3 linked regions of the Homo sapiens genome follow. The protein of the gene in region 1 purifies or fractionates together with the protein of each later gene. This does not show direct contact. Each region holds a gene or a part of one and is shown in the gene's direction. Other genes may lie near its edges. The genes, in order: KIAA0586, CEP97 and KIF24.

Region 1 (3,654 bases):
TCTAGAAGTACGTCAGTGTAATAAGCAAATCTTGGACAAGTCTAAGTCAGAAAACTGGTGAGAGAATGCATGTTAGAAGTAAAAAGAGGACATAATGATAGACTTAGAAGGTATTAAGAATACAGTGTATTAAGAATACTGTGTACATGAATGCTACAAATTAAGAAATCTAGATGAAAGAAATAACTCACCAAAAATAACCATATAACTAAGAAGATTTTAATAGGCCAGTTACTGGGAAATAAATTTAAAAAAAACCTTCAAAGAGCAATCTCCAAAAGCAGTCATGATTTTGTTTGAGTTCTTGAAAAATTTTAAGAAACAGATTATGATCATGCTATATATTCTGCTCCAGAGCAATGAAAAGCAAAGAATGCCCCTCATGTCATTTTATGATGCTAACCTAGCCCAAGTATCAACACCTAACAATTAGTTTCATCAGAGATATTTTCATCATGCTATTGTAATTTAAACAAACCTAGTTCTTTAAATAAGTTATGAGTAAATTATATTTTATCATATGTTAAAAGATTAATACACAGTGATTGGAATGCAGCAATGTTTTAAAAATGGTAATAGCAAATTCTGATGTAACACTTATGCACCAGCCACTGTCCTCTGCACTTCTTTATTTTTGTTTTACTTTCTGTTTTTTATTTTGTTGAGACAGGATCTCGCTCTGTCACCCAGGCTGGAGTTCATGGGTAGGTTCACGGCTCACTGCAGCCTTGACCTCCCAGGCTCAAGTAATCCTACAACCTGAGGTCCCCCTAACCGCCCCCCCGCCAGAGTAGCTGGGACTACAGGCATGTGCCACCACATCCAGCTAACTTTTTTACTTTTTGTAGATATAGGGTCTCACTATATTGCCCAGGCTGGTCTCAAACTCCTGGGCACAAGAAGTCCTCCCGTCTCAGCCTTTGAAAGTGCTTGAATTACAGGCATGAGCCAACATACCTGGCTGCACTTCTTACATACTACTTGATCTTTACAAAAGCCTAGCACGTCTAATAATGTTTCAAGCTTAAGGAATAGAAGGGTTTAAGTCACCCAGGCAGTCTCTCTCCAGAGACAGTGCTCTTAACCATTGCGCCACTACAATAATTCATGATCTATTAATACATTTATATCATTTGATCAAATAAGAAAATATATGTGGCAAGCACTACAGTCACATTTAATGACATTTTATGCCCATATCTTCTTAATTTTTTTATTTTTTAAATTGACAAATAATTGTACCTATTTGTAGGGTACGTAGTGTTGTACTTATAATGTGTAGTGATCAGATCATGGTAATTAGCATATCCATCATCTGAAACATTTATCATTTCTTTGTGTTAGGAACCTTCAATATCCTCCTTTTAACCGTGTAACACATTATTGTTAACTATACTCATCCTACTATAGTCATTCCTCCTATCTAGCTGTAACGTATTCCTGACTTATTCCTCCTATGTAGCTGTAATTTTGTATCCTTTAACAAATCTCTCCCTATGCCCCCCTTCCATACCCATTTTATACTCAGTCACCACATACACACATAATACCCACAAACTTCTTTAAGAATAGAATGATACATTCCTTTTTTGTTTTTTTAAGATGGAGTTTCACTCTTGTCACCCAGGCTGGAATGCAACGGTGTGATCTTGGCTCACTGCAACCTCCGCCTCCCCAGTTCAAGTGATTCTCCTCCCTCAGCCTCCTGAGTAACTGGGATTACAGGCATGTGCCACCATGCCCGGCTGATTTTTTGTATTTTTAGTAGAGACGGGGTTTTGCCATGTTAGCCAGGCTGGTCTCAAACTCCTGACCTTAGGCGATCTGCCCACCTTGGCCTTCTAAAGTGCTGGGATTACAGGCTTGACCCATCGTGCCCAGCCAGAATGATACATTCTTAACATGAAGGACAATGTTTATTGGAAACCTGCAGTCAATACCCTGTTTAACAGTAAAATTGGGAACAAGACAAGATGTCCATTATTTTTTAAACTTAATTTGGAAGCCTTAGTTGTAGCAGTTAGATAAGAAAATGAAATCAGTTATGGATATTGAAAAAGAGGAGGCAAAGTTATAATTTGTAGAAAATATTGTGTATTCAGAATATCCAAGAGACCACTAACTCAGAAATTTTTACACTAATGGAAGTTCAGGAAGGTGACCAGATACTCAGCATATTATTCAATAATAAAATGAAATAACAATTACCATAGCAATGTCCCCACCGAAAAAAAAAAAGTTGGGAATACTCATAACCAGAAGTCTATAGAATCTGTCTGAAGAAGTATGAAATTTTGTCAAGGGAAATAACCAAAGGCTAAGATAAATTAAGAGACTCAACATGTTCTTGGATGGGAAGACTAAGCGCTGTAAAAATACAAGTTATTACAAAATTAGCATATGTTTGGCTGTGGTCAGTCTTAAAATTTTTTGTTATTTTGAGAATAAGTGGTAGATGTAAATTGGAAATGTAATTCTAACACTTACCTAGAAGAACATACTGTTGAGAAAAAAAAAGTATGTGCCTGTGTGTATACTGTATGTATATATTTATACTGTATATGTGTGTATATACATACACACAGAATTAAGGATACATCCATATAGAATACATTCAGTTTGGAATAGCTAAGATAAATTTGGAAAAGCAAAAACAAAAATGGGATGATGGAGAACTTGCCTTAATTGATATTATAATGTACTCTAAAGCCTTAGAGGAATGAAGAATCTGGCTAGAGTGTCTAGAACAACGGGAGAACTCCCTTGTGTGTGACTGGAGAGATAAGCAAGGGACTAGGTTATGAACTCCCCTAAAGGAATTTGGTCTTTAATATAAGATAAATGGCAAATCATTGAAAAGTTTTAAAGAATTAGATATATTTCTTAAAATACTCACTCTGGTAGCCATATGAAGAAATGGATTGGAAGAGGGCTAGACTATAGTCCAGCAAATGAATTGGCTCTGGAGTTTTCAGGGAGGAGTGAGTTAGATTGGTCCTGAATACACTGGGCAGTGGTGGTATGGTAATGGGAATCATGCTCAGTTGGAGAGGAAGAGACAAATTTGGAAGATGATTAGGAGATTGAATTGACAGGAATCATTAATTAGATATGAGGGTAAGGAAGGCACTAAGGTTGAATCCCAGATTTTTGGCTTTCACAAATACATGGTGAGTAGTATTACTCATTGAGAAAGGAAATCCTTGTGGGGGATAACTTATTCTGGGCATGGGCAAGGGTTTGAGGTTCCTGTGAGAAATGTGGGTAAGAAGTGTTCAGGAGAAAATGGAATATAAAGGTCAAGTTGCCAGACAGTGGCTCATGCCTATAATCTCAGCACTTTGGGAGGTCAAGCTGGGAGGATGGCTTGAACCTAGGAGTTTGAGATCAGCCTGGGCAACATAGCAAGACCCCATCTCTAAAAACAATAAATTAGCCAGGTGGGGTGGCATGTGCTTGTACTCCTCATTACTTGAGAGGCTGAGGCAGGAGGATCACTTGAGCCCAAGAGGTTGAGGCTGCAGTGAGCCATGGTTATGCTAATACACTCCAGCCTGGGTGACAGTGAGATCCTGTCTCAAAAAAAAAAAAAAAAAAAAAAAAAGGCCAAGTTCACAAAAGGGATCCAAGCTGGAAATTAAGATGCAGAAGTCA
Region 2 (3,654 bases), on another chromosome or scaffold:
AACTAGGAGAGTTCCACCTTCAACAGGAGCAAGTGTTTCAGGAGAGATGAGAGGTGCCACAGAGAGGACACAGGCATTAAACTTGGCAGTTGGAGGCTATTGGTGACTGTGTTGGTGATTCTCCAGACTATCCTCAGGTTGGATGATTTGCTAAAAGGACTCACAGAACTTGGGAAAATACTATTCTGTTCGTCATTATGGTTCATTACAGCAAAAGGATACAGATTAGAATCAGTAAAGAAAAAAGGTGCCTAGGGCAGAGTCTAGGAGACATGAGGTGCAAGCTTCCAGTTGTTCTCTTTCAGTGGAGTTGTACAGACAGGGCTTAATTTTCTCAGCAATGATGTATGATAACACATATGAAGTATTGCCAACTGACGAAAGTTACCTCATCTTTGGTGTCCAGGGTTTTTATTGTGGGCCAGTCACATAGGTATTGAGTACCCATGTAACTGATCTTAACTATTTACACCTCAGACCACATAGAGGTCACACTGATACTCCATGGCCCAGGACCCAGGACCCCAGGCGAACAAAACAGATGTTGACTAGAAATCATTGATTGCCTAAACTATCTGATGTGACCAAGACCCCAGGTGTATAAAGATATTCTTTTTCAGTCAGGATATTCCAAGGGCTTGGAGATTATCTCCCAGGAGTCAGTCAAGGGCCAGTCTTATCTTTGCAATGTACAGTGTTTGAACATCCCCATCCTGCTGAGTTAACTCTTTACTGCACAGTGACCTTCCCAAGAGCAGCTTCAGTGGTGTAGAGGGATGAAGGCCATTTTGGAATGGGTTGAATAGTGAATGAGAGGTAAAGAGTTTGAAGGATGAGTGTAGCCAATTCTTGGAAAGAGTTGTTTTGAGGAAAACAAGAGAAAAGAGAGTTAAGTGGTGTCTGGAGGAGAATCTAGATTAAAGGAACATTCTCTTTTGTAGATGAGAGATATAGAGTTTGTTCATGTGTTGATGGAATGAATAAATAAGGAGGGAAAAACTGATGGTGCAGCAAAAAAAAAAAAAAAAAAAAAAAAGAGGAAGAGCAGGATTGCAGTTCTTGAGAAGGTAAGAGAGGAAGAAATGTAGTGTCGAAGTAGAGGAAGTGGCCTGAAATGGGAGCAGGAGCAGGTAAGGTGGTAGGTTTGATGGTGGGAGATGGGAAAAAGTCCTGTCTGATGCTGCTTCTTTTTCAATAATGTATAAGATGTGGTCAACACCTGAAAATGAGGAGAGGGTGAAGGAGGTGTAAGGAGAGAAGTATGAGGTGTGAGGTAGTTATCTTAAACATGACCTTATGAGGAAAATGGAGGAGGGTTGCTGGACAATGTGAGAAAATGCTTAAAAGTGCAAAACAATAGGTCAGGTTGTATGATTTTCATCAGCAATTCTTAGCTGCTCTGGTCTGATTCAGGCATGGTTAATTTGGTTCAGCCAGGAATGATTTTTTTTCCTAGGTGATATTGTAGAGAGAGCAGGGGAAGGGCAAGAGAGCTGAAGATATTTGAGAGGGAGTAATAATGATAGATCTTAGATTTTATATGTTTTTTGAGATGGGGTCTTGCCCTCTTGCTGAGGCTGGAGTGTAGTGGCGTGATCATAGCTCACTGTAATCTTGAACTCCTGGGTTCAAGTGATTCTCCCACTTGAGGCTCCCAAGTAGCTGGGACTATAGGCATGCACCACCATGCCCAGCTAATTAAAAAAAATTTTTTTAAAGAGATGAAGTCTATGTTGCCCATCTGGTCTTGAACTCCTGGCCTCAAGCAGTCCTCCTGCCTCAGCCTCCTAAAGTTCTGGGATTACAGGTGTGAATTACCTTGCTGACTGGAATTTTATTTTTATTTTTTATCTAAAAAAATTTTTTTTTGAGATGGAGTCTTGCTCTTGTCACCCAGGCTGGAGTGCAATGGTGCGATCTCAGCTCATTGCAACCTCTGCCTCCCAGGTTCAGGTGATCCTCCTGCCTCAGCCTCCCGAGTAGCTGGGATTACAGGCACCTGCCACATGCCCAGCTAATTTTTTTTTTGCATTTTTAGTAAAGACAGGGTTTCACCATGTAGGCCAGGCTGGTCTCAAACTCCTGACCTCAGGTGATCCTCCTGCCTGGGCCTCCCAAAGTGCTGGGATTACAGGTGTGAGCCACTGTGCCCAGGCTGGCTGGAATTTTAAATGAGGTAAAAGGGAAGTGAAGGCAGGGGGGAAGGATCATTGGACTGAAGGTCTAGATTGTTGCAGTGGGGTACAACAGCAAGTGAACTGGGAGGATAGGAAGTAGTGGTTGGTGTTGGGTGCTTAGAACCATTTCTGAAAGTAGTGTAGTCAAAATGATTTGGTCTAGGGTGAGACTATGAGAATGGGTGACTGACATGGGGTGGATTATTGTTAGAGCATCCATGTGAATGTTGAGGTCTCCAAAAACGATGACAGGTATGGGGCAAAGAGAAAGCCTGGTGCTGAGACTTCATTGAATGGGAGCAGATGGTGGGAGGTCAGTACTTGACAACGAATTTTGGGAAATTTAGCAGGATGGCAGGAGTTAAAGGAGGGAGATGAAGAATCATTTGAAAACAATAGTGAGAAGCAATTTTTGAACCCTGATGTGTGACAGGGAAAAATAGCTTCCACTTCAGAGGGCTATAGTGCTCTCAGAAGTGGGTCTGCTTTGGACAAGGAAAAGTTCAGAGAGAGATGGAGTATATAAGGGAGTTTGCTAATTATAATTCAGGAGTTCTAGATGGCACAGGAGAAAGGCTTGGGGGGCTAGAGAAAGTGGAGAATTGGGTCAGAGGTGTGGAACAAAATGGTCTTGACAGTTTGGGTGATAATGGATCACTAAAGGAGGAGCCTTAGGTTTGTGATAGGCCTAAGTATGGAGAGAACAGCAGTGAGCCCAGACCTCAGACTTTGATGAATGAATGAGGAATAATGGATGGGAGGTCTCTTGTTAGCAAGGAGTAGGTCGGAGACCTGGGGAAACAGAATAGTGAAGTTTGATGGGATTAGTCTTTAGCAGAGGGTGTTTCAAGCTGGATCACGAGTACTTAAATGTGACCCTTAATTGTTTTGGAGGCTTTGGATAGCCACTCCTTTTTTGCACTTTCTGTTCCTTTGGTTTGTTTGGCTGAGAAATTGAAGCCAGACAAAGAGCCATTTAACATTTTATTTTATTTCTTATTACTGGAAATACTTTGTAGAACTAATACCTGTATTTCAGTCATATCTCCTTTGGCTTCTACTTTGAGTCACAGTTCAAAATTAAGGTTTATGATGTCACTTATAAAACTGTTCCATTTTGATTCTGAGGTTAAAAAAATAAAAATAAAATAAGGTTTTAATTTAGATATTCTAAAAGTGGGAAAGACAACTATTAGATTATTAATCTCTTTACAATGCATGTGTTTATGAGTTGTAACAGGAAGTCTGAGTCAAAGCACCCTTCCTTATGTCAATAATGTGTTTTGAATTATTGTAGATTACGAAAAGAAAGAGATGAAGAACGTATTAAAAAATTTGTACAAGAAGAAGCTTTCAGATTCCTTTGGAACCAGGTAAACTCCCTCCTGCTGATTTACCTCATATATGATCAAATACAGATTCTATATTCATTGAGATAATCATAGAGTACTCAGGTGTATTAAGCACTCTTGTTCAA
Region 3 (3,654 bases), on another chromosome or scaffold:
CTGCCCAAACTAGAGCTTTTTAAAAAAACATGCATGTCTTTTTGCTCCTTGAACTTGAAACTATGGGCCTTTTGTTCATATGAGTCATCCTAGAGCCCTGAACAATTTTAAAAAGGACCAAACATTTTCTATCCTCTTTGATCAGCTTTATATGATTAGGTTATTGATATCCAACAACTAAAGATTTTAACACAAAACCCTTATTAAAATGATGCATTAGGCCAGGCACAGTGGCTCACACCTCTAATCCCAGCACTTTGGGAGGCCAAGGCGGGTGGATCACCTGAGGTCAGGAGTTCAAGGTCAGCCTGGCCAACATGGCTAAACCCCATCTCTACTAAAAATACAAAAATTAGCAGAGCGTCATGGCAGGTGCCTGCAGTCCCAGCTATTCTAGAGGCTGAGGTAGGAAAATCGCTTGAACCCAGGAGGCAGAGGTTGCAGTGAGCCAAGATTGTGCCACTGCACTCCAGCCTGGGTGACACAATGAAACTCTGTCTCAAAAAAAAAAAAAAGCATTAAAAATTTTCATTTTTGATGAGCACAGTGGCTCATGCCTGCAATCCTGGCATTTTGGGAGGCCAAGGCAGGCAGATTGCTTGAGCCCAGGAGTTCGAGGCCAGCCTGGGCAACATGGTGAGACCCTGTTTCTACAAAAATACAAAAATTAGCCAGACATGATGGTGTGCACCTGTAGTTCCAGCTACTATTGGCTGAAGTGGGAGGATGGCTTCAGCCCAGGAGGTTGAGGCTTCAGTGAGCTATGCTCGCACCACTGCACTCCAGTCTGGGTGATAGAGCAAGACCCTGTCTCAAAACAAAAAATTCCCTTTTCTTGTGAAAAATCAAACATATGCAAAAGAAGAAAAAAATAGAACACTGAATCCCAATATGTCCATCATCCAATTTCTTTTTCTTTTTTCTTTTTTTTTTTTTTTTTTTCAGACAGAGTCTTGCTCTGTTGCCCAGGCTGGAATGCAATGGCACTATCTCACCTGTGAACTCCACCTCCTGGGTTTAAGTGAGCATGCCCAGCTAAGTTTTATATTTTTAGTAGAGATGGGGTTTCACCATGTTGGCCAGGCTGGTCTCGAACTCCTGACCTCAAGTGATCTGCCCGCCTCAGCCTCTCGAAGTGCTAGGATTACAGGCGTGAGCCACCGCACCTGGCCCGTCATCCAGTTTCAATGATTGTCACGATTTTCCCACAGTACCTCAAAATGGTACATTTCATTTATTCTGTCATTTATTTATTCCATCTGCAGTTTCATGCAAAAATGATGCATTTTAAAGTCCCTAAATGTTGGTTAAGAAAATAAAATTTGCTTTAAAACATGCCATAAAATTAGTGCTTTATGCATTCATTATATTAGAAAATTATTTGCTGGTTTTTTTTTTTTTAAACCAATTCAGATCCCAGTAAAAAAATTATTCTCCAGGCTGAGCGTGATGACTGATGCTTGTAATCCCAGCACTTTGACAGGCCAAAATGGGAGGATTGCTTGAGGCCATAAGTTGAAGACCAGCCTGGGCAAGATAGTGGGACCCTGTCCCTACAAAAATTACAAAAATTAGCCAGCTGCGGTGTTGTATGCTATAGTCCTAGCTACTTAGGAGGCTGAGGTAGAATTTCTTGAACCCTGGAGGTTGAGGCTGCAATGAGCCATGGCTGTGCCACTGTACTCCAGTCTGGGTGACAGAGTGAGATCCTATCTCAAAAAAAATTTTTTTTCAGCAGCCAGTTGGAGGGCTAAGGAAATCAGAATTGATATGAAACAATTGTATAAAATAGTATTCTATATATGATCTCTTAGGGGTTTTTTGTTTGTTGGTTGGTTTTTTGTTGTTGTTCTGTTATTTGTGTTTTTGCAAGGAAAAGGGCGGAGCAGGGTGGGGATGGAGATAGAAGAACTTTCTCAGGGTTGACACTTTACTTTGTAACTTTAAGAAATATATTATGCCTAATATACAGCAAAATGTACCAATACTTTTTTTTTTTTTGAGACAGAATCTGGCTCTGTCGCCCAGGCTGGAGTGCAGTGGCGCAATCTCGGCTCACTGCAAGCTCTGCCTCCCGGGTTCACGCCATTCTCCTGCCTCAGCCTCCCAAGTAGCTGGGATTACAGGCGCACGCCACTATGCCTGGCTAATTTTTTGTATTTTTAGTAGAGATGGGGTTTCACCGTGTTAGCCAGGATGGTCTTGATCTCCTGACATCGTGATCCGCCCACCTCGGCCTCTCAAAGTGCTGGGATTACAGGCGTAAGCCACCGCGCCCGGCTAAAAGGTACCAATACTTTGACCTGTTAAGTAATCTTGTCCTATTATTAAAAATTAAAAGCCTGTTTATAAACATATTAGACAGAACACTTCAGAGAAACAGAATCCTTGGACTGAGATGGAGAAAATCAGAGTTTGTGTTCGAAAACGCCCCCTGGGCATGAGGGAGGTACGTCGTGGAGAAATTAATATTATTACTGTAGAAGACAAAGAAACTCTACTTGTGCATGAGAAGAAAGAAGCAGTTGACCTCACTCAATATATTCTGCAGGTATGATGTTTTCGTTTTATGTTTGGAACTAATATTATCAAGTATGTCATTTTTTTTTGCTTTTTGTTTGAGTGGTGGCATACAAGTTTCTGTTAGAACACTGAAAATCAAGTTTCTGGTTCGGGTGTTGACATTCATTCCTGATGTGACACTGTATTAAGTCATTGATATCCAGGGCCTTCATTTTTTCAAAAGACGGTGCAATAGGGGATACAAAAACAATTTCTCTTGTGCAGTGGAGCTACATCATATATTCACTTAACATGCTTTGTGTGAATTTAATTATACATATTCAGCAAAAAAAAGGAGGAATGAAGGAATAAAAATAATTTAAATAATGAAGTGGGGCCAGGTGTGGTGGCTCACGCCTATAATCCCAGTGCTTTGGGAGGCTGCAGTGGGAGGATCACTTGAGCCCAAGAGTTTGAGACCACCCTGGGCACCATAGCGAGATCCTGTCTCTCCAGAAAAGATCTTAAAACTAGCCCAGCATGGTGGTGTGTACCTGTAGTCTTAACTACTCAGGAGGCTGAGGCAGGAGGATCACTTGAGCCCAGGAGTTCTGCATTACAGTGAGCTATGATTGCACCACTGCACTCCAGCCTGGGCAACAGAGGGAGGATCTGCCTCTAAAAGAATATAAAAATAAAAAACAAATAAATAATTAAGTAGTTGTCAACAGGACCAGTCACTGAATATATGACTATGAGATGTCACACAGTTGATTTCCATTCTTGCTTGCATCTCACAGTGTGAACTTCTCATTCTGCTGACTTTGAGACTTGGGTTTAATGATGGACAATATCTTTTTGGGCAACAGGACCGACAATTGCCAGCCACGTGCTTATTTTGATTCTCAGCTGTCTTGGGCTTATACTTAATTGGCGAAAATTGGGCTCTGAGCAGACCACTTTATACAGGGTAGATTGCAGTGGGTAAATAAAATCCAGAGATATGATTTCACATCTAACATATAAGGGTTTAAATAAAACACTAATAACTCAGCCATGTAAATAATGTTCACTGCCTGCTAGAGTGATTATGAAGAGTCCAAGGAGAAAGAGTTTGGTATTGAAAGAAACTTATTCCAAGCTGAAGGTACC

What was found.
Region 2: the proteins of KIAA0586 (region 1) and CEP97 purify together in Homo sapiens (co-immunoprecipitation; one study listed by IntAct). This does not show direct contact.
Region 3: the proteins of KIAA0586 (region 1) and KIF24 purify together in Homo sapiens (co-immunoprecipitation; one study listed by IntAct). This does not show direct contact.

What each region holds. Positions count from the first base shown.
Region 1 is NC_000014.9:58,434,126-58,437,779, forward strand, and holds part of KIAA0586 (protein TALPID3), read left to right. Parts: intron 1-3,654. UniProt on the Homo sapiens protein: Required for ciliogenesis and sonic hedgehog/SHH signaling. Required for the centrosomal recruitment of RAB8A and for the targeting of centriole satellite proteins to centrosomes such as of PCM1.
Region 2 is NC_000003.12:101,759,011-101,762,664, forward strand, and holds part of CEP97 (centrosomal protein of 97 kDa), read left to right. Parts: intron 1-3,474; coding exon 3,475-3,550; intron 3,551-3,654. UniProt on the Homo sapiens protein: Acts as a key negative regulator of ciliogenesis in collaboration with CCP110 by capping the mother centriole thereby preventing cilia formation. Required for recruitment of CCP110 to the centrosome.
Region 3 is NC_000009.12:34,305,149-34,308,802, reverse strand, and holds part of KIF24 (kinesin-like protein KIF24), read left to right. Parts: intron 1-2,361; coding exon 2,362-2,551; intron 2,552-3,654. UniProt on the Homo sapiens protein: Microtubule-dependent motor protein that acts as a negative regulator of ciliogenesis by mediating recruitment of CCP110 to mother centriole in cycling cells, leading to restrict nucleation of cilia at centrioles.